Regions from separate parts of the Homo sapiens genome. Here regions 1 and 2 are each linked to region 3. Evidence: fine-mapped expression QTL. A gene starts in region 3. Each other region holds a variant in brackets. All regions are shown on one strand. Distances are between the middles of the regions.

Region 1 (8,572 bases), 48 kb before region 3:
CATTCAGGAGCAGATTGTTCAGTTTCCATGTAGTTGTGCAGTTTTCAGTGAGTTTCTTTATCCTGAGTTCTAATTTGATTGCACTGTTGTCTGACAGATTGTTTGTTATCATTTCCATTCTTTTGCTTTTGCTGAGGAGTGCTTTACCTCCAATTATGTGGTCGATTTTAGAATAAATGTGATGTGGTGCTGAGAAGAATGTATATTCTGTTAATTTGGGATGGAGAGTTCTGTAGATGTCTATTAGGTCCATTTTGTCCAGAGCTGAGTTCAAGACCTGAATATCTTGTTAATTTTATGTCTCGTTGATATGTCTAATATTGACAGTGGGGTGTTAAAGTCTCCCATTATCATTAAGTCAAAGTCTACATCTCTTTGTAGTTCTCTAAGAACTTGCTTTATGAATCTGGGTGCTCCTGTTTTGGGTGCATATATATTTAGGATATTTGGCTTTTCTTGTTGCATTGATCCCTTTACCATTATGTAATGCCCTTCTTTGTCTTTTTTGATCTTTGTTGGTTTAAAGTCTGTTTTATCAGAGACTAAGATTGCACCCCTGCTTTTTTTGCTTTCCATTTGCTTGGTAAATATTCCTCCATCCCTTTATTTTGAGTCTATGTATGTCTTTGCACATGAGATGGGTCTCCTGAATACAGCACAATGAGGGTCTTGACTCTTTATCCAATTTGCCAGTCTGTGTCTTTTAACTGGGGCATTTAGCCCATTTACATTTAAGGTTAATATTGTTATGTGTGAATTTGATCCTGTCATTATGATGCTAACTGGTTACTTTGCCCATTAGTTGATGCAGTTTCTTCATAGTGTTGATGGTCTTTACAATTTGGTATGTTTTTGCAGTGGCTGGTACCAGTTTTTCCTTTCCATATTTAGTGCTTCCTTCAGGAGTTCTTGTAAGGCAGGCCTGGTGGTGACAAAATCTCTCAGCATTTGCTTGTCTGTAAAGGATTTTATTTCTCATTCACTTACGAAGCTTAGTTTGGCTGGATATGAAACTGGATATGAAATTCTGGGTTGAAGATTCTTTTCTTTAAGAATGTTGAATATTGGCCCACACTCTCTTCTAGCTTGTAGGGTTTCTGCACGGACATCCACTATTGGTCTGATGGGCTTCCCTTTGTGGGTAACCCGACCTTTCTCTCTGGCTGCACTTAACATTTTTTCCTTCATTTCAACCTTGGTGAATCTGACAATTACGTGTCTTGGGTTGTTCTTCTCGAGGAGTATCTTTGTGGTGTTCTCTGTATTTCCTGAATTTGAATGTTGGCCTGTCTTGCTAGGTTGGGATAATATCCTGAAGAGTGTTTTCCAACTTGGTTCCATTTTCCCCTTCACTTTCAGGTACACCAATCAAACATAGGTTTGTTCTTTTCACATAGTCCCATATTTCTTGGCAGCTTTGTTCATTCCTTTTCATTCTTTTGTCTCTAATCTTGTCTTCATGCTTTATTTCATTAAGTTGATCTTCAGTCTCTGATATAATTTCTTCCTCTTGATCGATTCGGCTATTAATACTTGTGTATGCTTCACAAAATTCTCGTGCTGTGTTTTTCAGCTCCATTAGGTCATTTCTGTTCTTCTCTAAACTGGCTATTCTATTTAGCAATTCCTTTAACTTTTTTTAAAGGTTGTGAGCTTCCTTGCATTGGGTTGGAACATGCTCCATTAGCTCGGAGGAGTTTGTTATTAAGAGGTTTTCTGGTTTTCGGAATTTTCAGCCTTTTTGCCCTGTTTTTTCCTTATCTTCATGGATTTATCTACCTTTGGTTTTGATATTGCTGACCTTCAGTTGGGGTTTTGGTGAGGAAGTCCTTTTTGTTGATGCTGATGCTATTCCTTTCTGTTTATTAGTTTTCCTTCTAACACTCAGGCCCCTCTGCTGCAGGTCTGCTGGAGTTTGCTGTCGGTCCACTCCAGACCCTGTTTGCCTGGATATCACCAGCAGAAGCTACAGAACAGCCAAGATTGCTGCCCTTTCCTTCCTCTGGAAGCTTTGTCTCACATGGGCACCCACCAGATGCCAGCCAGAGCTCTCCCATATGAGGTGTCTGTCAACCCCTTCTGGGAGGTGTCTCCCCATCAGGAGGCACAGGGGTCAGGTACCCACTTGAGGAGGCAATCTGTCCCTTAGCAGAGCTCAAGTGCTGTGCTTGGAGATCCACTTCTCTCCTCAGAGCCAGCAGTCAGGAATGTTTAAGTCTGCTGAAGCTGTGCCCACAGCCAACCTTCCCCCAGGTGCTCTGTTCCAGGGAGATGAGAGTTTTATCTATAAGCCCCTGACAGGGGCTGCTGCCTTTCTTTCAGAGATGTCCTGCCCAGAGAAGAAGAATCTAGAGAAGCAGTCTGGCTACAGCGGCTTTGTGGAGCTGCAGTGGGCTCTGCCCAGTTTGAAATTTCAGGCCGCTTTCTTTATACTGTGAGGGGAAAACCGTCTACTCAAGCCTCAGTAATGGTGGATGCCCTTCTCTGCACCAAGCTCGAGCATCCCAGGATGACTTCCGACTGCTGTGCTGGCAGCGAGAATTTCAAGCCAGTGGATCTTAGCTTGCTGGGCTCCATGGAGATGGGATCCACTGAGCTAGACCACTTGGCTCCCTGGCATCAGCCCCATTTCCAGGCAAGTGAATGGTTCTCTCTCCCTGGCATTCCAGGTGCCACTGGGTTATGAACAAAAACTCCTGCAGCTAGCTTGGTGTCTGCCCAAACAGCCGCCCAGTTTTGTGCTTGAAACCCAGGGCCCTGGTGGCGTAGGCACCTGAGGGAATCTCCTGGTCTATGGGTTGTGAAGACCATGGTAAAAAGGTAGTATCTCGGCTGGAAAGCACCGCTTCTCATGGCACAGTCCCTCATGGCTTCCCTTGGCTAGGGGAGGGAGTTCCCCAACCCCTTGCACTTCCCGGGTGAGGTGATGCCCCACCCTGCTTCAGCTTGCCCTCTGTGCACCCTCTGTCTAACCAGTCTCAATGACATGAGCTGGGTACCTCAGTTAGAAATGCAGAAATCACCTACCTTCTGCAATGATTTTGATGGGAGGTGCAGACGAGCTGTTCCTATTCAGTCATCTTGCCAGCCACACATGCCCATCTTCATTCCATTATTTCATTTACTCTAAACATACTTTCAGGCAGTTCTTAAAATTTACTCCATTTTAACTATAATGAATCCATGTATGAATGCATTTGTCTTTTTCTGGCTCTTTCATAGTGCTTCTTGAATTGGATGATTCTTGTCTTTTTTAAATTCTGGAAAATTCTCACACATTCTATGTTTAGTTTGACCTCCTTATTCTTCACAGTCTGTTATTATGGAAGTACTATGCTTAACACGTTGCGTCTCTCTGTTTTCTTCGATGTTACCAACAAGATGTCTTAAACTATCACCACCTGCCCCTACAAATGTACACAGGTTAGGATGTTTCATTTATCGTTTTCTGCTTGTGATACAACTTGGCTGTAACAGAAGTTCTTTCAGTGTTGAGGCTCAGAAACTCTCAAAGTTGATATTTAGTCCCTGACTATAATAAGATGTGGGAAGAGGGGACATTTCAAACTCTCCATGTTGGTCCCTTGCCCCACTCATTGAGGAAAGTGAAGTCTATTTTGCAAAATTAAGGCTGAGTCAGTGAAAGAGATCTAACATAACTGCCTCCGTCTTGCTTCTAAAACCCAAACTGTCCTTGTTCATTCCTGGGCATAGGCTGAGCTAACTTTGGGAGAAACTTATTTATAGTTTATAGTTTAAAACTAAGATGATGAGGTGGGGGGCAGCCCCCGCCCGGCCAGCCCCCCCGTCCGGGAGGTGGGGGGCAGCCCCCGACAGGCCAGCCGCTCCGTCCGGGAGGTGGGGGGCAGCCCCCACCCGGCCAGCCACCCCCTGCGGGAGGTGGGGGGCAGCCCCCGCCCGGCCGCTGCCCTGTCCCGGAGGTGGGGGG[C/T]GCCTCTGCCTGGCTGCCCCATCTGGGAAGTGGGGAGCCCCTCTGCCCGGCCGCCACCCAATCTGGGAGGTGTACCCAGCAGCTCATTGAGAATGGGCCATGATGACGATGGCAGTTTTGTCGAGTAGAAAGGGGGGAAATGTGGGGAGAAGACAGAGAGATCGGATTCTTGTTGTGTCTGTGTGGAAAGAGGTGGAAATGGGAGACTCCATTTTGTTCTGTACTAAGAAAAATTCTTCTGCCTTGGGATGCTGTTAATCTATAACCTTACCCCCAACCCCGTGCCCTCTGAAACATGTGCTGTGTCCACTAAGGGTTAAATGGATTAAGGGCGGTACAAGATGTGCTTTGTTAAACAGATGCTTGAAGGCAGCATACTCCTTAAGAGTCGTCACTACTCCCTAATCTCAAGTACCCAGGGACGCAAACACTGCGGAAGGCGGCAGGGCCCTCTGCCTAGGAAAACCAGAGACCTTTGTTCACATGTTTATCTGCTGACCTTCCCTCCACTATTGTCCTATGACCCTGCCAAATCCCTCTCTCCGAGAAACACCCAAGAATGATCAATAAATACTAAAAAAATTAAAAAACAAAAACAAAAAAAACTAAGATGATAACAGCCCTTTCCCAAAGCAGGCCTCCTTCTTGCCTGGGGACTAGATTGCCTCTGTAGGACTAACATTAGCTACAAGATTAGAAATTATGGCTAAAGGGCATTGCAGCTTGAGACTACAAGATTCTTACCCTCCCTAAACTGCTCCTAAGATCAGTGCTTGAGATATTTTGCAGACTCTGCAAATTTTAGTGCCTTAATCAATTAAACTCCAATTATATATTTAAAATATTGATTATTTTGAATGTGTTTTAAATGCTTATGTAACAGCAAAATATCACATATAGAGTGATTACAAGCTAGTTGTCATATTTACCTTTATGTCTATTCTAAAATAATAATAATAATGCAAGGTAAAATCATTTCATTGTTATTCTATACTAGTTTTTATATCTAACTAGATATATAATTTGATATATTCTTAAGGTTGTATAATACATATTTTATCACATTTTCCAGTTTACAACAATCTTAGAGAAAATAAAGAGAAAGAAAAAAATTTGAAAGGCATAATGGAAAATATCAGAATATTTTATGTTAAAATCAACAATACAGCACACATAACTTGATGGAACCATTTGAGATCCTGAAAATAAAAATACCTTTAAAGTACTTCAAAAAAGAAAATATGCTTATAAACTTTAAATAGAAAAACTATATTATAAAAAACAGCAGAGAATATTTCTGCAAGATATTAAATTAATTATATAAATACTACATTTTTAAAAGAGTTCTGTAATTGGCCCATGAGAAGAGAGTTCAATGGGGCAGAGTTTGGAAATGCAAATCCTTAGGGGAATTTGGTTTATGACAAAAATAACATCTCGGATATCTGAAGAAAGATGGATTACTTAATAAATAAAAAAACAACTAGGTATTTTTTGAAAAAATAATGTCAGATTTTAATCTCAATTATTATATAAGAAATCATTTTGCATGGGTTAGTTTCAAAATTTAAAATAAATGAAAGAGTCATTGTTATAATCTTGAAATGTGGTCTGGAAAACTCTTACTAAGAAAACGTAGGACTTGGACACTGTGAAAAGAAGAAACTGTTGAATTGTACAACATAAAAATAAGTCACTAAATTGAATTTCAAACTGGTCAAGAATGTATAGAAAAGGTATAACAGATCAAACACTAATTCATTATATTCAAATTTTGGTTCATTAAAATTAAAAATGTCTGCTCTGCAAAAGCTTTTGTTAAGAGAAAAAAAAGACAAGCCACAGACTAAAAAAAAATTGCAAAAGATAGCTGATGAAGGATTCTATGCAGAATATACAAATTAACAGTGTAAAAACAAACCGCACAATTAAAAATAGACAAAATATCTGAACAGATACTTTATTAAAGAAGATAGATGACAAATAAAGATGTTAAAATGCTCAAAATCATATATCATTTAGGAATTGCAAATTCAAACAATGAGATACTACCCTAAACCTATTATAAGTATGGCTGAAATCAAAAATACAAACAAGGACGTGAAGAACAGGAACTCTCATTCATTGCTGGTGGGAGTGCAAAATGGTATAGGAACTTTGGAAGACAGTTTGACATTCTTGCAAAGCTGAATATAAGCTTACTATATAATCTAGAAATTGTGCTTCTAAGTATAACCCAAATTAGTTGAAAACTTGATACAAATGCTTAAAGAGTCTTTTCTAATACTTGTTAAAATTGGAAGCAGTCAAGATGTGCTTCAGTAAGTGAATGAATAAACAAACTATGATAAGTCCATACAATGAACTATTACTCAGTGATAGAAAGAAATGAGTTATGAAGCCATTAAAAGACATGTAGGAAGATTAAATACATATTACTAAGTGAAATAAGTCAGTTTGAAAAGGGCACAGACTGTATGAATCCAACCGTATGAAATTCTGAGTCAGACCTATAGAGACAGTAAAAAGAGCAGTAATTGGCCAGGCTTCAGGGGAAGGGAGGGATGAACAGGTGAAGCACAGGACATTTTTATGATGGTGAAATTATATCCTATGATACTATAACAGTGGATACATAGCATAATACATTTATATAATGAATTTGAGAATTTCAGAGGCTTATCAAGGAAAAAGATAAGCCCACAGGTGGCAGTAGCACACAAAGCTTCTACTTGGACGCTACTTGGACAGGGTTGCAAAAAGAACAGTCCTCACAGCATAAGGCCTTATAGAAGCACAGGGGACCACCATCCAGAACGCAGGAGGACAAAGGAGCTCCCAAGGATGGGAAGGGAGATGCTGCATGTCTAGATAACATCACTTCACAGCATGGTAGGAAGCTGCTGGGTCAGAGGGCTCTGAAGGGCAGCAGCCTGCAGTTTATGTAACTACAAGATTTTTCTTATCTATGGCCGGCAGATGTTGGGTGCAGTTTCCCAAGGTGTACAAAGCAGGAAGACATAAAATGGCAAAAAAAATCTGCCTGTTGGAGATATATTTACAACAACTGGATGCGAAAACATTTCAGTTTGGCACTGTGGGCTTTTGAGCTAATGAGTCTCAGCCTGATTTAAGAAGTAAGCAACAAAGGGCCAATATGCAAAGGCCATCTCTGGCTCATTTATATAACAATTTGTTAAATCCTAGAGAATGGTACAACACAGAGTGTCTAATGTAAACTTGGACTTTTGTTAATAATAATCTATCAATATTGGTTCATTAATTTCAATAAATGTATCACACAAATGCAAGAGGTTATCAAAAGGGGAAACTCTGTGGGAGGGGGGCAGGTAGGGAAGAGGGAGTGGGGCTATGTGGGAACTTTATATACCTTCTGCACAATTTTTCTGTGAACCTAAAACTTCTATAGAAAATAAAGTCTATAAAAATGTTAAAAGTCAATGAGGAGAAAAAGGAGAGCGAAATAAATGGAAACTTGGGGGAAATTTTGTAATTCACAAAATAAAATCAAAAGTCAAAACCAAATAATTCTGCACATCCAAAATATAACTAACAAGTCCATTGAATTATAAACTGGTCAGAAACACATGCAACAGTTATAACAGATCAAAAAGAGATTTGTGCAAGTTTAATGCAAAGGAAATGTGGAGTAAGGCATTAAGTAGGCAGTTTAGAGAAAATGAATACAATTTTTTGAGAGGAAAGAAGGCCACCCTAACTCAATAAACAAGTAAAATATTATCACTGTGAGTTTCTATTTTTCATCTGTAAATTTGGAAAATACAAAAAACCCTGAAACCTGTAACACCCACCTGACAAACTCACATATGCTGTTGGTGGACATGTACACTGGTAACTATTTCAGAATATTTTTGATATCGTAATAAAAACAGCACATAGCCTTTGACAAAATAGTTCTATTCATAGAAATATTTCCTACATTCTTACTTACAGATATGCTCAAAACATATGTACAAGGGTGTTTGTGGCAGCTTTCGTTTTATTAGCCAAAGACTGGACACTACCCAACTACACATTGGTAAGATTTGTACCATGTAACAAGTAGCTTTTGCCAGAAATTTTAAATCTTGTATGCCACTTATTGGTTCAGGATTTTAATGTATATGTCTCTAAATAAACTATATTTATGTCTGCTTTGCATTGATCCCCTTCCACTGCAAATTTTCATCACCTATCGAGGTCCCACCAGCCTATTGTGTCTTTGCTTATCTTACTGTACAGATAACTCACATGGATTCCAATATGGACCACAATTTGGACAGCTTCTTCATTGTATAAGATATAAGTAAATCATGTCACCTCAATACAAATATTGAGTTCTTGAGGGCAAATGTTAGGTCTTCTTCATTTGTTGTTGTTTTTTTTTTTCTCCCTGGAACCTAATACATGATAAAGACTTGCTGATTAGAAGTAATTTTTCCTAACCATAAGACAGTTCTTATAGTACATATCCTCATTACATAACTATGTATTAAACCTAAGGAAAATGCTCAAGAGTTTGTCCCTTTTGTTTGGTCCTTGCTTTTTCTGGCACACTTCATATTGCCAAGGCCCGTAAGGGTAAGAGAGAGAGTCATACCT
Region 2 (8,572 bases), 31 kb after region 3:
CACTTCAGCTCCCACATGCCCCTATTGTCCAGGTGTATTTGTGCAGGGCACCACCTGCACATCCATGAGTGTTAGGCCTGCATGTTGGGGAATGGGTGGTGCAGTGACTGGGAGGTAAGCAGGTGATAGCTCAGGAAGGAAGGTCCATGCTAAACTTGGGACTTCATCTCTTACCTGGATCATTTCAACAGCCCTTTGACTCTTATCTCTCTTCCCAGTCTCTCTTCTTGCAATTCATCCTATGCACTATAGCAAGAATGATTTTTCTAAAATGCAAGTATTGTTCTATTTAAGACTCTCCATAGATGGTGTTTTCCAGCTTGGCATGAGATCCTATGAAAATTGCTAGAAATATATCCCAGGGTTTTGTCCTTGTGCCCCCTTCTGTACTACAGCCAAAGACAGGCTGTTATGTGCAGTGGTTAAGAAGACTGCAGGGGCTTGAAAGACTGATCTTCTGGAACCAATTCCTCATGCTGTCATTTTCTAATGACAAGATATTGGAAAAGTTGTTTAATTTCTCTATCTATCTTTTCTCATCCACAAAATGGAGACAGTAATAGCAGCTACTTCATTGGGTTGATGAGAAGATTAAATTAGTTAATTCAAATAAAGTATTTAAAATAGTGCCTCACACATAACTAAAGTACTTAATAAATGTTAGCTATTACTGAGACAGCCAGGTGGGAAGGGCTCCCTGGCAAAACTCCAACTGGCCTATGCACTGAGAGGAGTGCACACTGGGATGGAGCCACAGACGTTCGTGCCATTTGCAGCAGGGAGGAGCCTGGCCTCTCCTCTCCTTGGGTGGAACCTGGAATTCAATCTGTGAGGTGGGAATCCTACACTAGCAGGAACTCTGGCCTTGAAGTGAGTTCCTGTTCCCCGTTTTTTCCTTTTTGCCCAATAAATCCCATTATTCTCACCCTTCAAATCATCTGCAAGCCTAATTTTTCATGGCCATGCGATAAGGACCTGGCTCTTAGCTAAACTAAGGAAAACGTCCCACAACATTATTACTGCTATTAGTAGCAGGCAAGATGAACACATAAGGAGGCATGACACTACATAGCAATGTTATTTTAGATCTAGCAGAAAATGCTGTCAGAGAAAAGAGCAGGGAGGAATTAGTTCTATCAGGGCAATCAGGAAAGGGCATAACATAAAAGTGCATAATGGAGCTAGAGTTTGAAGGAAGAATGAATTGGAGTTTTCTAGAAAAAGTCATACAAGGTAGTGAGGCAGCATGTGCTAAAGGGTTAAGGTACAAAAGTGCACAATGAATTCCCATAAAATAGGGATACTATTTATTCATTTGCAAATGTCAACCCTGCATATTTAATTTCCCCTTATAAATCCTGTCTGTATTTAGCCTCTTGCCTCTAAGGCAGAGCTGTGAAGATTACTGACCAGGGACTGAAGATAATGGGCATTGCACCACTGGGGCAGAGGCTGTCAGTCTCCTTGCCCACATCCCCTAGGTCTCAGCAGTGCTGTTTACTGTGACTTCCTGCTGAAAGCCCCTTCACCTCTCTGCTGAGGGCTTTCTCTGACTGTAGAAAAATGTTCGGTCCCCTGCATACAACAAGCTAGAAGTGCTTGGAGTTAACACACCTGGGAGCAGCCCTGAACCAGCGACAAAAAAGAGTTTGAGGATAAGCACTGTCAGCCCCTTGCCCTGAAGTGGGACAACTTGGAGCCTTGCTCTAAAATATCTTTCAGAGGGACAATGAGGCGCAGCTACCCACCGTGTTAATATGTCCATTAACACACCCTGCATAGCTCCCTTCCCTTCCCTGTCTCATTTCCCCATTTCCTTGGAGGTGTTTCCTGGGATCTCCTCTGAAATAAACCGCTGGCACCTGGTTTCATGTGCTGCTTCCGAGAAACCAAAGACAGTTTTTTAACAGGAAATCAGGCTTTGAAGTTGGGCTTTGTGGAGAGGGAAAAGGGCAAAGTCTGGAGGATTTTGACCATAAAGTCTTACCCACAGGGAGAGAAGCTCTCCTGTCTAGTATCAAGTCTTAGCCCTGCTGCTGGCCACAGGAAGTGGGTGCTGAAGGGAAGGTTTTCAGGCAGAGGGAACAGCCCATACAAAGAGATCTATTAGGTTATCTCCAGTTTTGAGGTTTTACAATCAAGATTTCTTTCATTTTGGCACTAAACACTACAAATAATGTCATGGGCCGCACCCTGTTCCAGGCACTAGGGGTACCATGGTGTTCAAGCTTTGGTGCCTTCTTAGCTCTCAGCTAGACTCAGTTCTCTGAGGAACAGGATGTTTCTCCTTTAACTCTTATGATACAGTAAAACAGCCAATGTGGTGGAAAGAAAAGAACCCTAAGCTGAAAGTCAGGAGACCTAAGCTCCATTCCCAGAGTGTGGGGGAGAGTCAGAGGCAAACAGTGAATCACTGCAGTGTAGGAAGCTCACAAGTCAGGGTCAGTCCTAGAAGGGACCTCAGTGACCAGCTAATCAGACCCCCATATTTCACAGAAAGAGACACTGGAGACTTCTAGAAGGGATGGGACTTGCTTAAGGCCATGCAAGGGTTCAGCAACAATTATCCAGGCCCTTCAAGATGAAAAGTGTTTCAGGGGTAGTGGGCAAGCCAAGAATGACATAGGAGGGGCTGGAGAAAAAGGCATGTTGAGGCCTATATTACCACCAAGCCCTGGGCAGGTCTACTGAAGGCACACACATCACACACACATTTACATTTTCGTTAATGTGTCTGTCACACTTACCATTTGAAGGGGTCTCCAAGGTCCTCTCATTCAGCCCTACTTCCCCTATCCCATGCCATTGTTCATGTCGCTCCCTTTGCCTGGAACACTTACCCTTGACCTTCTACCACCATTGCCTATCTCCTACTCACCTCAGGAATCATTTCCTACTAACTTTTCATGCTACTTCCTCCACTCACCCAAGTTGGTTTTGTGTCCTTCCTCTGAGCCTCCACAGGCCCCTGTGTTTCTACTATAGCAAGTTTCATGCAAGTGTTATAATTATTTTCATCTCTTCTTTGCCACAGACTGGTGCTCTTTGAAAGTAGGTGTGGTATTCATCTAGGGGTTGCATTGTTTTAGGACATTTAGTAAGCTCTTCATAAATGTTCAATGAATGAGTGAATGAATGCATGTTCAATTTACTCCATCATATTTTGGCTCTGGATTCCTTAGTTCTTAGCCACAATCAAGAGAAAGAATAATAGACAATATCTGTACAATCTGTACAGACTTTGGAGTTACAAAGTCCCGCCACGGGTGAGGTCTCATTAAATCCTACAACTCTTAGAGGTAGGTAGACAAGTTTCATCTCCGTTTCAGAAAGGCCAGTCAACACCCAAATGTGAGCTTCAGGACAGCCTGTAAAAATTAAAAAGCAAAGCAGCCTCTTTTGCCTCCAAGTTCCAACAACCCCCTTCACATTCAGAATGTCCTCAATGTATCTGAGGAATCTCAGATGGTAGCATTCACCATTTGTGCCTCAGTTGTTCCAGTCTCTAATGTGGACCTTCAGTCTCATTGACTGTAATGCTCCTGTGGCCCCTTTCCAAACCTCTCATCTTTGCCATGCTTTCTCATTCCAGCAGGACCTTGTTCTCAGGTTGATCTCTCCATCACTACCTGCCAATATGTACATATGAGATGTCACCCGGCTCTCTCTATATGTATATATTTCAGCAGGGTTCTTAGCCCCTCATTCAATTGCAAGATGATGTCAGGCCTTCTACCAAGTCACTTAAAAGGAAACTGCCTGTCCATTGGGTCAGTTGTCAGTCACCACAGTGAGAGCTGTAACCACCTCTCTGAAACCTTTCAGAGCCCCTACCCCAACTCACCTCCAGTCGGTGCATGGGGCAGTGGTTAAAAGTACTAGATAAGCAGGTAAAAGATTTGTATCCTAGCTTAATTTTGTCATTACTTGCTTTATGACCCTCCCTAGCCATCCCTCAGTTGCTTCTTCCTTAAAAGAGGAGAGGCGCAAAGGCTTGAATTAGATTAGATGAAATCTATGGACGCTTCTCATGTTGACATTGTGTGCTTCTAATTTGTTTCCACAGTTTGTCTCCTTGGGGCAGGAAGTGGATGGATTGGTTGGTGGTAGTGGAGGGTATACAGGGAAAGTCATATGTCAGCTTGAGAGGCAACAGCACAAATAGAAAAACATTGCAGAGTAGCTTTCAGAGAATTGAAATGGGTTTACCATGAGCAATAATAACATTAAGAAGCAGCTTTGAACTGTGAAAGGATGGTGTTTTAAAAAAAAATAGCACTCTTAAAAATATCATGAAGAAAATGTTTTCTAAAGTGTTTTTGTTATTGAGTTTGGACTACAAAAGCACTCAATTTAACATGAGAGACTCGTAACCATGTCCTTGGGTGTGAGAGTTCACATCAGTCAGAGGGGATGGAAACTGCTAGAAGCCCAGGCAAAGCAGTGTCAGTTATCCATTAACCTAGAATGAGTGTCTGTCTAGATTTCTAGCCTTAAGTAAGATTACTGTAATTTCTTTTTTTCTCCAGGGTGAAAATTTGGGAGAAATTTAAAGGTTATATATAAATGTAAATCCTACAGGCTTAAATTAAGGTAGTTA[C/T]AGTTTACTTTCATATTTCAAAATCAAATTTCAGCTTCAGCCCAGACTCACAAAGTAGAAATGTCAGACTTTTTACTGTGGTCTTATACAAAATCTACAACTTTCTCTTAAAGAGGAAAAAATAAAACCCAACCTTTATACCTTATCTCCTGAATAGACTACAAAAGCAGCATTGGTCTCTCTCTCAGTATGCCTTGTATGTAAATTTTAGGATTATAAACATTCAGAATGAGAAGGAACCTCAGAGTCAGCTAGTGCAGCTCTCCTCCCTCTTCATTCTGGGTCAGAATTTATCTGAACAGTCTCCCTGACAGGTAAACTTAGCCAGCCCTCTATTAGAACTTGCTAATTGGCAGGGTGGTCCAGAGATGGAGCAATGATGACCTCCTGAGAGCATTCATTACTGGACCACACTGCCAATTAGAAAGTTCTTCCTTTTGCTAGCTAAATTCTGCATCCCTGAAATTTCTAACCACTTAAGCAAACAAAGCAAACATCAGGTATTCCAAAATTATATTTCCACTATTTATGATTTCTTCTTAAAGGAATGATTCACAAACTGGGAACTTCCTATAGAATAGTAAATTTATCTGGGATGAGAAGTACATGAAGACTAGTAAGACTGATAATTTTTAAAATCCTCGCAATTATTTTATAAAGAGTGCTCCCACATTAACCATCTCATTTAGTTCTCAACACCAGTCTAGGACTGATGAATGAAGAAACAAACTCAGAGAGGTGAGGTAATGTGGCTGAACTGGTCTTTAAGCCCAGATTTCTGACTCCACATTCAACCCTACCCTCATTGTACTACTACTCACTCATGCAGCATTCTTCATGAATGTTACAGTTTCCAGGTTCATGACATAAATATGGAAAACAGCTGCAATCTACGCGGAGGTCAGTTGAATAAAAAAGGCAGGCAAGTCAGCAAATTATTGCAGAACAATTAAGCACTGAAATTCTAGGTGGGAACAAAATACTTCAGAAAAACAGAGAAAGGAGCAACAAATTACCTCGTGGAAATGGGGAAGGCTTCATGGGAAATAATGTTTAACTTAGATTTAGACATTTAACTCTACTTGGAGTGTAGAGATTTCTGTGTAGACAGACAAAATGATTATATGAGAGACAGAAGAAACTGCACAAAGCAAGACAAGTATGTAAAAGGCCATGGCATCTCTAAGGTAGAGTGAGGTACCTTTTGTGGCTGAAGCACAGGGTCTGTGAGAGTGTAACACAGATGACATTGGAGAAGAGGTAGAGGTGAGCCTAGGGACACTGGGTGCCACGGTATAGCCAAGAATGGGACAGAGTCAGGAAGGGTAAGGGCAACTAATATATACAAAGAGCATCTTATCTTTAGAAAGATCATTCCAGCAACAGTAAGAGAATAAATGATAGAGCCAGAGGCTGCTAAGGGATGGCAATTTTTGAGGTTGTTGCAGTATCACTGAAAAAAAGAAAGGAAAAATCCATCAGTAGATAAAGGGATAAACAAAATCTTATACATACACATAGAATACTATTCAGCCATGTAAAAAGGACAGCTAAATGATATCTCGTGGACACAAAGAGGGGAACAACACACACTGGGGCCTACTTGAGAGTGGAAAGTGGGAGGAGGGAGAGGATCAGAAAAAATAACAATTGGGTACTAAACTTAGTACCTGCATGATAAAACAATCTGTATAATAAACATTCGTGACACCAGTTTACCTGTGTAACAAAGCTGCACATGTATCCCTGAACCTCAAATAAAAGTTTTTTTAAAAAGGAATGAATTTTTGATATATACTATAACGTGAATGGACCTTGAAAACATTACATTTACTGAAATAAACCAGACAGAGAAAGGCAAATATTGAATGATTCTACTTACATGAGGTCCCCAGAATAGGCAAATTCAGAGAGAGAAAAAGCTGAATAGAGGGCAGGGGAAGAGTAGGCAAGGGGGAGAAATTGTTTAGTGGGTACAGAGTTTATGTTGAGGATGATGAAAAATTTGGGGTATAGATAGTGGTGATAGGTATACAGCATTATGAATGCTGTACATTATGTACATTATGAATGCTGTAACCAAATGTGTACATTTGGTTAAAATTATAAATGGTTAAAATTTGTATATTTTACAATGGTTAAAATTATAAATATTATGTTATGTACATTTTACCACTGTTTAAAAAAGGATTGATAAATTAATACTGTACTAAAGCAAACACATCAAAATGTTAATTGTAGAATAAAAAATTATGGAAGGAAGAGCATGGAAGATTAATTTGGCTAAAGAAAAGAATGTAAATGTTACAACTTTGACAACATAAACATGTAGTTGACAAAAGATAGAATTGAGAGGGCAAAGACAGAAGTGTTAATATCTGTCTTCTTACAAAGTAGGTAGTCAACAGATTGTTGAAAGTAGGTGGAGCAAGAAATAGAGGTTTAAGTCTGTTACTGAAAATTACATATGTAATCAATAAAATAACTAATAATAACATGAATATCAAACACTGGGAAAAGAAGGGAGGAAAGGTAGTCAACATTAAATTTTCATCTTTCATAGTAGAGATTGTTCTTGGCTTGTTGAAGTCAAGATAAAAGGTATTATATCTACATAATATCAAAAGGAGTTGTGGAGGAATCCACCAGAATACCTAGGCAGACCATTCACAGAAGGTCATCCCTGGGTACCTGCAGGTATGGGGTAAGAAAAGAGAATATCATAAGCTGTACTACACTATTTGCAACAACATACTATTTTAACTTTTAAAAGTTAGTACAATTACAAAAAGATAACCTCCTTTGAATGAGGGCCTGAATTAGGACAGTAGCCGTGAAGGAGGGGAGAGGACTGGAGGAGGGGAGAAGGCTGCTAAAAGGCATTCGTGAAGTTAAATCTGCAGGACTTACTGACTCTGGGGGGATGGAGAGAATTAAGAATAATTCCCAGGCTTTAGATCTAAAGAGTAGGTACTCTAATGTATTAAGATGTGGAAAGCAGGTTTGGTCTTGAAAGAAGAAATTATGAGTTCAGATTTGAGCACACCGACTTGGAGGTACCCATGGGATATCCCACTGGCATAGCCAGATAGTTTTTGTATCTGTGAATCTGGAGCTTGATAAACAGGTTAGGGCTGTACACCTTCCTTATAATTACTGCTTGGGAAAAACACTAACTCTTCATAGGCCTAGTATTAGATCTATGGTTTTGTGTTGGGAATGGTGGTGATGTCCAGTGGTTTAAGTCACTTTTGGAACAGTGAGCTACTTGAGACTTTATTTTGTGGAAGAAACTGGGAGAGTGAGAGGGTGGAGCCTCTTTGTCCAGCCATGTTTCTGCAAACTGGTTTGGATCATATATGTTATAATAGAACTTGGGGAGGCAAAGGCAGGGTGATGTGTCACCAGATTCCTCTTCAAGAAAAGGTCTGTTGCCCCAGCTGCTGGCAGTTCTGTGGGGAGGCAGCCCTCAATTGTCAGCATTTCTTTACCCACAGATCCACCTTGCCAGAGGTCCCACCCTTCCAAGAGCAGTCCACATCCAGTGAATAATAAGTATAAAAACATGGCCATTTCAGCCTAACATGAGTTTATTCCAATGGACCATTTTAGCTCCAGCGCTCCCTGTGAGTTTGAGCAAGGTTGCTATCAGGCCTGCATTGCAGCTAAAATTATCCCCTCTGCCCAATCCTTCCCTCCCACTGGTATAGATCCAAGGTCACTACATAAAAAGCATCCTGCAATCCAAACTCCAGTTTAAGAGTCCATGATAGGTGTTAAATGGCTAAGCAAGCTCCTTTGACTTTGCCTATTTGTAGTACTTGCTATAATCCCATGCTATGAGGACTAGATTGCTGCAGACAGACCCTAACTGAAGCACAACCCTCTGCATTTTCCATATATACTGGTGAGTAGCTAATGGCTATTTTCTGTTTTACAAGATAGAGTGAAAACAGGCTTCAATCAATCCAG
Region 3 (8,563 bases):
TGACGAAGTTCAGTTTATTTATTTTTTCCTTTATTGCCTGTGATTTTGGCATCATCACCAAGAAATTATCTCCAAGTCCAACAACATGAAGATTTTACCCTATGTTTTCTTCTAAGAGCTTTATTTTCTTAGCTCTTGCATTTAAGTCTTCAATCCATCTTGAGTTAATTTTCATATATGGTGCAATGTAAGGGTCCAACTTCTTTCTTTGGCATAGGAATATTCCATTTTCTCAGCATCATTTGTTGAAAATGCTGTCATTTTTCCACTGAGTGGTCTTCACACTCTTGTCAAGAATCATTTGACTGTAACTGTGAGACTTTATTTCTGGGCTCTCTGTTCTATTCCATTGGTTTATATGATTGTCTTTATGCCACTACCACACTGCTTTCACTACTGTAGCTTTGTAGTGAGTTTTGAAATCAGGATGCATGAAACCTCCAACTTTGTTCTTCTTATGTGTAGTATGTCTTTGTGCCTCAGTGGCAACTTCCATTTATTGGCCTGTTATATTTCTATACTTTTTTATGCATGGCTGAAACCATTCCCCTTCCCATAAAGCTTTCTCAGTCTCTCCAACAAAGGACTTCATTGATCCTTCCTCTGGGCTATCCAGCTAAAAGGAAGAAAGGGGTGGACAAAAGTGACCTATTTTGTGTCAAAAGCACCTGTCTTTTGACTGTCTGTATTCCCCACAAGGCATGAACAACTAAAGACATGTGTGCTCCCTGAACAGGGTCAGGGATAGGACAGGCCTCACTTCATGTAGGACTGACAGCATGAGGACATCCTTCACTCTCGGAAGCTCTCTGAGAGAATATTCTGGATAATTGAGGCCTCAGCTTTGAATGCCAACACCTGCCTAAAATGTTTGACCATTTTGCATGAAACTCTTCCTGCCTGGGTTTCATACTCCATGCCTTCTAAATAGAAAACTCATAATGACCACAGTCACCTTTCCTTGATGACTCTGGGTCATCCGTATGTGTGTGAATCTTGGCTGCTACTCAAGAATGCCCTTTGTTGAGAGTTGATCTACCCAGTTTTATAGGTCTGTTTGCCCCGATTTAGTCATCTTTTACATTGTCTTTCCTGGTCTTTCCAGGTTTAATGACCTCTCATGCACCATCAACCCATCAGCTGCCATTCTCCTTGCTGTCCCTGTGTAGCTTTGCCCCCTCTCTTCTAATTTGTTGTGAGTTGGGATATGAATAACAAGACTCTGGCTAAAACAAAAATAAACAGTCTCTGAGTGGGGTCACAAGGCTCACTGATAAGTCAAAGATTTAGGTTTTGGGCATGAGTTTTAGAATGTCTATTCTGGCTGTTTCAAAGCCTTTTTTGCTCCCTTCCTCATGCTCTGTTGGTCTCTGGGCTGCTAATGTGCCTGGTTAGCTTACAGATAAGTCTTAGATGCATTCGAGGAGAGGCTACTATAAACCCAAACCTGCTAGTTTTGGATTAGGTAAGTGTGCAGGGTTTGGGGGTCAGCCTCATGTATCTGTGAGGTAGATGGGAAGACAGAGCATGCAGGCAGCAGAACACTGTCCTAGTCCATCCCTACTGCTACAGCAAAACACCTAAGACCAGGTAATTTATAAAGTACAGGAATTTATTTCTCACAATTCTGGAGGCTGGAAGTCCAAGATCAAAGCCCCAGCAGGTTTGGTGTCTGGTGAGGGCCCAGTCTATGCCTCCAAGACGGCACCTTGTGGCTGTGTCCTCACATGGCAGAAGGTAAAAAGGCAAAAGGGCCTGGCTAGTTCCCTTAGCCCTTTTATAAGGTACTGATCCCACCCATGAGGGAGAAGCCCTCACGGGCTAATCACTCCTAAAGGCCCTACCTCTTAGTACTGTTGCATTGGGGATTCAGTTTCAACATGAATTTTGGAAGCAACACAAGCATCCAAACTATAGCAAACCCCAAGGGCTGGGTGAGGGGGCTCCTTGTGGGGAGCATAGAAAGAAGTACAAGACTCAGCTGTCTTCTCCCTGCGACATTCCTTTTCCCATCTCTGGAAGAGTCATCCGGATCCAGAGCCCTCACTATGGTGTGCTCAGAGGCCTAAGCTCAGACCACTCCTTCCCTGCTCCCTGATTAACACCCAGAGATCTGCCAGCCTCATTCCCCACTGTCCCTGTATCCAGCTCACCCCCAGGGACCACTGGGCACCTGGTCCATCACATTTTCCTGATGTTTCTAATGCTGCCCCTCCTGCATCCCTGTTCGTCTGATAAACTTGCCTTTAAACGTGTATATGAAGGACTCTTCCTCTGGTATCTAATCCTAACAGGTGCTAGATCCCACAGAGCCCTGTCCAGCTGGGGACTATGCTGACCTCTCTCCCAGATCAATATCCCTCTCCTCGGGGCTCAGCCTGGCCAGTGCCTGATGTTCTGGGATAGGAGAACTGGGGAGAGAAGGCCTAGGACCCTGCCTCTCACTTTTCTTTCCACCAAAAGGGGAAAAAAGAGGATCTGGTCCTCACACCCAGCCTTGGGATACTTATAAGATGCTGGGGATAGGGTGTGGGACAGGGCCAGTGAGAGCTGGGGATGGGGTGTGGGACAGGGCCAGTGAGATCTGTTTTCCTGCTGCTCCAGTCTGGGCCCTACAGCAGATGCATGCAGAGTAATATTTGTAAGACTGAAATATTCCAAATGCAGCTACTTTGGAAGGACCATGTGAGCAGATATCTAAGTGCGTGGCATCTGGGCCCCTTGGCTAGATGGTGGTCGATGTTGGTTTCTTTGTGTTAACCCCAAGAACATTCAGTAGCTCAGGGTTTGCAGAGGTTCTCAGGAGCACATCTTAGCCTCATTGGTGGTGTGAGGCAGGCAGGGCACAGGTCACACTGATGAGGACACCCGGGCCCAGAGACATTTAGCAACCTGCCCAAGGGCATCTGTAGTTCAGTGAGAGGTGGAGCTGGGACTGAAATCTAGGCTGCCTGAGTCCCAGAGATGGTCTTCCCTGGACCCAGGGAGCACTGTATCTTTTTCAGGGAAGGCCTCCTGACCACAACCATTTCATCTGTCACAGTACAGAATAGGAAGTATGGGTCAGGCATCAGAAGATGTGAATTCTGGCTCTGCCTTTTCAGAGATGGCCCTGCCTAGTTCCTTGGAATAAATGATGATGTCTTCCCCAGCCTCAGTTTCCTACACTATATAAAAAGAGAAAGCAACATCTAGGTAGGTTGGAATGGGAGTACATGAGGTGGTGGCCACTTTGCTAGGGTCACAGTAGACTCCTCACCTCCTTCCCCTTGTCTTCCTCTCACTAGGTAAAAGACAATTGTATTGAACTCTTAAGAAAATTGGACTCCAGTCCCGGCTCCACCTTTACTTCCCTGGGCCTTGGTTTTCCCACCACACAGGAGTTTGAACACTTTGATTTCTGAAGTCCTTCCCACCTCTGGGGTTCCAATATTCTGCTCCTTTTCTCCTCTTCCTCCTCCCCCTCCTTTCTCCTCCTGCTCATCTGGGGTTAGGGAGATTGCGTGTATGTGTGTGCCTGTGTGTACACATGCATGTATGTGTGTGCACGTAGTGGCAGCAAGGAAGAGGAAGGAAGGAGTCCTGCAGGGGTTGGTGGTGGCAGTTGGGAGAAAAGGAGGCAGGACTGTATGTGCCAGCAGGGCTCAGAGTTTTCTCACCAACTAATGGTGCTTGGGGCAGTTTAATCATTAAAGGAAAGGAATGAAGCCAGGAGCGCCTCAAAGTCCAGCCTGCTGTTGACCAACACTAACAGATGAGCAAGGAGCTGGCAGCAATGGGGCCTGGAGCTTCAGGGGACGGGGTCAGGACTGAGACAGCTCCACACATAGCACTGGACTCCAGAGTTGGTCTGCACGCCTACGACATCAGCGTGGTGGTCATCTACTTTGTCTTCGTCATTGCTGTGGGGATCTGGGTAAGTGGGCCCTGAGGCTGGGGCTAGCAGGGGAGGTAGTAGTGGTCTCTCAGCTTGGGTGGGGCTGTGGAGCTGGGGCAGGGCTAGGCAGAAAGAAGCAGATCATAGAACCATGTGGCTGAGAAGGAAGGGCCTTCAGGAATCAGGCTCCTGATCTCCTCATTTTTAGAAGGGCAGAGAGGGGTGTGGCTGGTCTGAGGTCACACAGAGAGTCAGAGGCAGACCAGGCCCCCGACTCCTGACTCCTCTCTGAGCACCTGCTGCCTTTGGCCCCAACCATCCCTGGTTGCCCTGAGCCTCACTCCTTCCTTCTTCCCACCCCAAGGCCCCCAACTCTGAGAACTCTTGACCCCTGGCCCTACCTCAGTCCTGCATTCGTTAGCATCTTGGCTAAGGTGATTTCTAAATGAGAAGGGGCTCATGTGCTCTCAGGGAAGTGTGCCAGGCTTATTCCAAGGTTCCTCTGTTCTCCATTGTTCCCAGGAGCCTCAGTGCTAGAGGCAGGGGCCAGGCTTTGGGGTCAGGGAAACCTGAGTTCAGGTCCCAGCTGCAACAATGAGAGCCTCATGTCCCTGGGAACATATGAGGCCTATCAGCTTTCTCAGGTGAACAATGAGAATAAGGACTATGCTGTGATCATTCAGCAACAGGACATACTGCAGCACCTGGCACGGTGCCTGGTGCCCGATCAGCAGGCAATAAATGGCTGCTATTATCACCACGCATTCCACAGAAGTGTGAGCACCTTTAGACTCTGCTGTGATTCAAGTCCCAGATGGTCACTTCCTAGGCTGTGGCCAGGTCAGAGACCCTCTCTGAGCCTCAGTTTCCTCATCTATAAAGGGGGGTGAACAGTCCCTGCCTTCTAGTGCTGGTGTGAGGAAGAATTGGGCTAACAGATGGTCACTGGCTCCTGGAAGTGGCCAGCCGAGAAAAGCACCAACTCCTCTGTGACTTTGGACAAATTGCTTCCAATGTTGGGCCTCCATTTTCACATCTGTAAAATGGATCTGTTTTGCTCGTATGGCCTCCAAGAGGATCAGAGCTGACAAGGAAAATACAAGCAAAAGCTTAACAAGCACAAGGCCCCACACATATTTATCACTCCCTCGTGACTGATTATTTTCCCTTAGGGGAAAGTCAGAGAACTGTTGGCTTTTGCATCTGAATAGCTGCTTCAAGTTCATCCTTCCCTACCCACTGCCCTGCCCTCACCCTGTATCTCCAGAGAATATTCCAACAGGCTGCTAACTGACCACCTACTGGTGTAAGACAGGGAGGTCCTGGATGGGGCTCAGTGGCGTGATCTGATTTCAACCCAGGGCAAGGGAAACTCCAAAACAGTACCCATAACTCTACTCAGGGCTCAAAGTCTCACAGTCAAACTGCAGCCCTCTCTGTCCTCCCGCCTCCAGTGTGGGAGCTCAGCTGGGAGCAGGGAGGGGATCAGCTCAGAGAAAGGGTGAGCACTACACATCTAAGGAGGTGATAACAAATCATACTCTGAAAGCGCACTTTGGGGAGGGAAGGATAAGGGGACAAGAGTGCACAATCAATGGCTTCACACACGTGACATCCGTTACCTCCTTTGCTCTTCGCACTGGCCCTGGGAGATGAATGGCGAGGCTCACAGAGAAAGTGACTCTGCCAAGATACATCGCTTAGAAACTGTGGAACCAGCCTCAGGCAGCTCTCTTCTGCCTCAGTTTTCACCCTCTGTGTCCCCACAGTGCCTGCACCGAGGGGAAGGAAATCTGCGGGGAGGGGGCAGGGCAGAGGTTCAGAGAGTCTTGAGAAATCCTCATCTCATCTATTTCCTTTCCAGTCGTCCATCCGTGCAAGTCGAGGGACCATTGGCGGCTATTTCCTGGCCGGGAGGTCCATGAGCTGGTGGCCAGTGAGTTGACCCTTCTCAACCACCCCTAGTGCAGAGGCTCCCAACTTTCTTCCTCCCCACTATCCAAGCACTTGTCCCATCTTCTCACACCTGGACCAAGGCAAAGACCTCCCCGTTGTGTTTCCTGACTCTGGGCCCCTTCTCTCCCGCCCAAACCCGCCCCGCAACCTGAGTGGTCCTGCTAGCACGCACCTTGGACAAACATCCCCTGGCCCCTCCTAGGTGTGGCCCTACATCTGGCACTTGACTTGCAGTGATGAATCTGGAATGTCCCTGTCCTAGAGAAGCTCAGAGCTGAGTGGGGCAGATAGATTCATAAACATCATGCGCACTGCTGAGCCAGAGGGAAGCAGGGGGCACTCACCAGAGCTTGGAAGCCCCTGACCACCAGACAGTGGAGTCAGCTAGGGTTAGGAAAGATTTTGGGGGGAAGGTGACACATAAGCTTAATATTGAAGAACAGTTAAGTTAAGGGAATCACAGAGGTAAAATCCCCAGCAATCTCAGGGAATCGATCCCCAAAACTTTGTGAGCCACAGTTTCTCCCATCAAGCCACACCACATTTCTAAGTTAGGGGAATCACAGAGGTAAAATCCCCAAAAACCTCAGGGAATCGATCCCCAAACCTTCGTGAGCCACAATTTCTCCCATCAAGCCACCTCACATTTCTATTGGTCCTCAAAATTAACTTCCTCCTCCTGGAATGGGATGGAGGGAGGAAAGCCCTGCCTCAAAAATTACCAGTAGAGTCATCAGCCCCAGTGGTAGCTGAAGCAGTATACACACCCAGGCATGCAAAACTCACACACGGCATGTGTGCATACCCACTCCCACATGCACACTCTCACACACTGACACACAACACTCACACTCACATACAAAGGCACCCACACATGTTCATACATGCCCGCACTCATACATGCTTGCAAACTCATGCACACAATCATACTCCTATTCTCACACTCACACCTTCTCTCACGCACTCACACTCTCACTCTCATACACACTGTCACAATCACATACACTCACATGCAGTCTCACACTCATGCTCCTTTACATACTTACACGTGCACACTCAGACTCACACATTCATGCGCACTCACACCACCAGCCATCTTCACGCCTCTCCCCACCCTTCTCCTTCTCACCACCTTCCCCACTCTCTAGTGGTCACAGACTCATTAAAGAGTAGCAGAAACACAGGAGGCCTCCAGGGCTCTCTGGAAGGTTTAGGTATCTGGGACAGGAAGAAGTAGGAGCAGGGAGCTCTTGTCTGTCCAGCATGACAGAATCCCCAGGGATGGCGGGGAGCTGGGCCTTGCAGCTCAGGAACAGTGGCGGGGTCACTGGTGCTACAGCCACCTTCTCATCAGGAAAAAGGAAAAACCCTTCAAAATGGTTCTTTTCAGCTAGTGCCCCCCAAATCACAGCCCTGGAAATGAAGGAAAGGAGGAGAAAGAAGCAGGACAGAGCAGGTTCCTCTGACCACTTCAGGAGAAGCCCAGGGGCCCTGCTGATTGTCTGGTCAACCCACAGAGAGCCGAGCTCTGGCCCAACGATTAGTGTGAGGAACCTGAGGCCTCCAAACAAGAGGGAGGCCTTGGCAGGCACTCCCAGGTTCCCACTGCGCCCCAAACACAGAGCAGGCACCCAGTGGGAAAGAGAGGATGTGCTCCCCATCCTCTGGTGGGCCAGGCTGTGAGCTGTGCCTCCTGCACCTGAGACCTGGGTCCTGCCTGAGGCCAGAGTAAGAACCAGCTCTGGGTAGGGAAAGCTCAGTCCCACCAGCACTGCTGGAGTGTTTGTCTGGGCATCTGCCCTGCCCTGAGTCTGTGCCCCATGAACAGTGTGGGGCTTGGGAGGCTGAGAGCAGAAGGTGCAGTCGCCCGTCCTCTTCCAGAGAGGTCTGCATGGTCCTCCTCCCCATGCCTCCCCTGCTGATCTTGTTGATGTCTCCTGGGTTAGGAGCAGGAGAAGTGAGGTTAAAAACCCTGGGCTGGGTTGGGGTGGAGGTGCCTCACTGCTCCAAGAACTGCCTGGGGGAGGCTTCTTCCCCTGAAGTAGGAGGCCTTGGTGTTCTTTGCTCTGACTGGGTGGTTCAGCCCAGCCCTACCAGCACCCTGGGACCGCCTGAGAGAGGAAGAGTGAGTGTGTGTGTGAGTGCCTGTGTGAATTTGTTTCCATGTGTGAGTATGTATGCATGTGTGAATGTGGGCACTGTGTGTGTGCATGAGTGTGCTTGTGTGTGTGTGCTTTGCGAATGTATGTGCACGTGTGTGCATACCTGTGCGTGTGAGGGCATATGAGGACATGTGCATGTGTGTGAGTGTATGTGTGCGACGGTGCAAGTGCATGAGTGTGTGTGTCAGAGTGTGTGTGCGTGTGTGTGTGTACTGTGCCTGTGTGTGAGTGCATGTGTGTGTGCATGTGTGAGTGTGTGTGTACTGTGCCTGTGTGTGAGTGCATGTGTGTCAGAGTGTGTGTGTGTATGTGTGAGAGTGTGTGTGTACTGTGCCTGTGTGGGCGTGAGTGCATGTGTGTGTCAGAGTGTGTGTGTACTGTGCCTGTGTGTGATTGCATGTGTGAGAGTGTGTGTGTACTGTGCCTGTGTGGGCGTGAGTGCATGTGTGTCAGAGTGTGTGTGTGTGTATGTGTGAGAGAGTGTGTGTACTGTGCCTGTGTGGGCGTGAGTGCATGTGTGTGTCAGAGTGTGTGTAATTGCATGAGTGTGTGTGTACTGTGCCTGTGT

Direction of the effects. Alleles are on the strand shown, and positions count from the first base shown. SD is a standard deviation of normalised expression in the study named. Not every link is listed here.
As copies of C replace T in region 2, the expression in substantia nigra of the gene that starts at base 3,734 in region 3 goes down (large effect, 0.78 SD a copy in GTEx).

Evidence for each region.
Region 1: its variant is fine-mapped to the expression of SLC5A9 in lung (TOPMed, PIP 0.97).
Region 2: its variant is fine-mapped to the expression of SLC5A9 in substantia nigra (GTEx, PIP 0.99). The same link has a PIP of 0.9 or more in spleen.

Annotation. Positions count from the first base shown.
Region 1 is chr1:48,170,585-48,179,156 of GRCh38, forward strand. It overlaps LINC02794 (long intergenic non-protein coding RNA 2794), which reads left to right. Exons shown (of 15, transcript XR_007066073.1): 13 at 7,925-8,009. It also overlaps the pseudogene SKINT1L. Among named protein-coding and RNA genes, the nearest start is that of SLC5A9, 48 kb to the right of the region's middle. The variant C/T (reference allele first, on the strand shown) is at 3,950.
Region 2 is chr1:48,250,029-48,258,600 of GRCh38, forward strand. No RefSeq gene overlaps it. Among named protein-coding and RNA genes, the nearest start is that of SLC5A9, 32 kb to the left of the region's middle. The variant C/T (reference allele first, on the strand shown) is at 4,601.
Region 3 is chr1:48,218,983-48,227,545 of GRCh38, forward strand. SLC5A9 (solute carrier family 5 member 9) reads left to right here and starts at 3,734. Exons shown (of 14, transcript NM_001011547.3): 1 at 3,734-3,916; 2 at 5,742-5,813. The coding sequence starts at 3,755.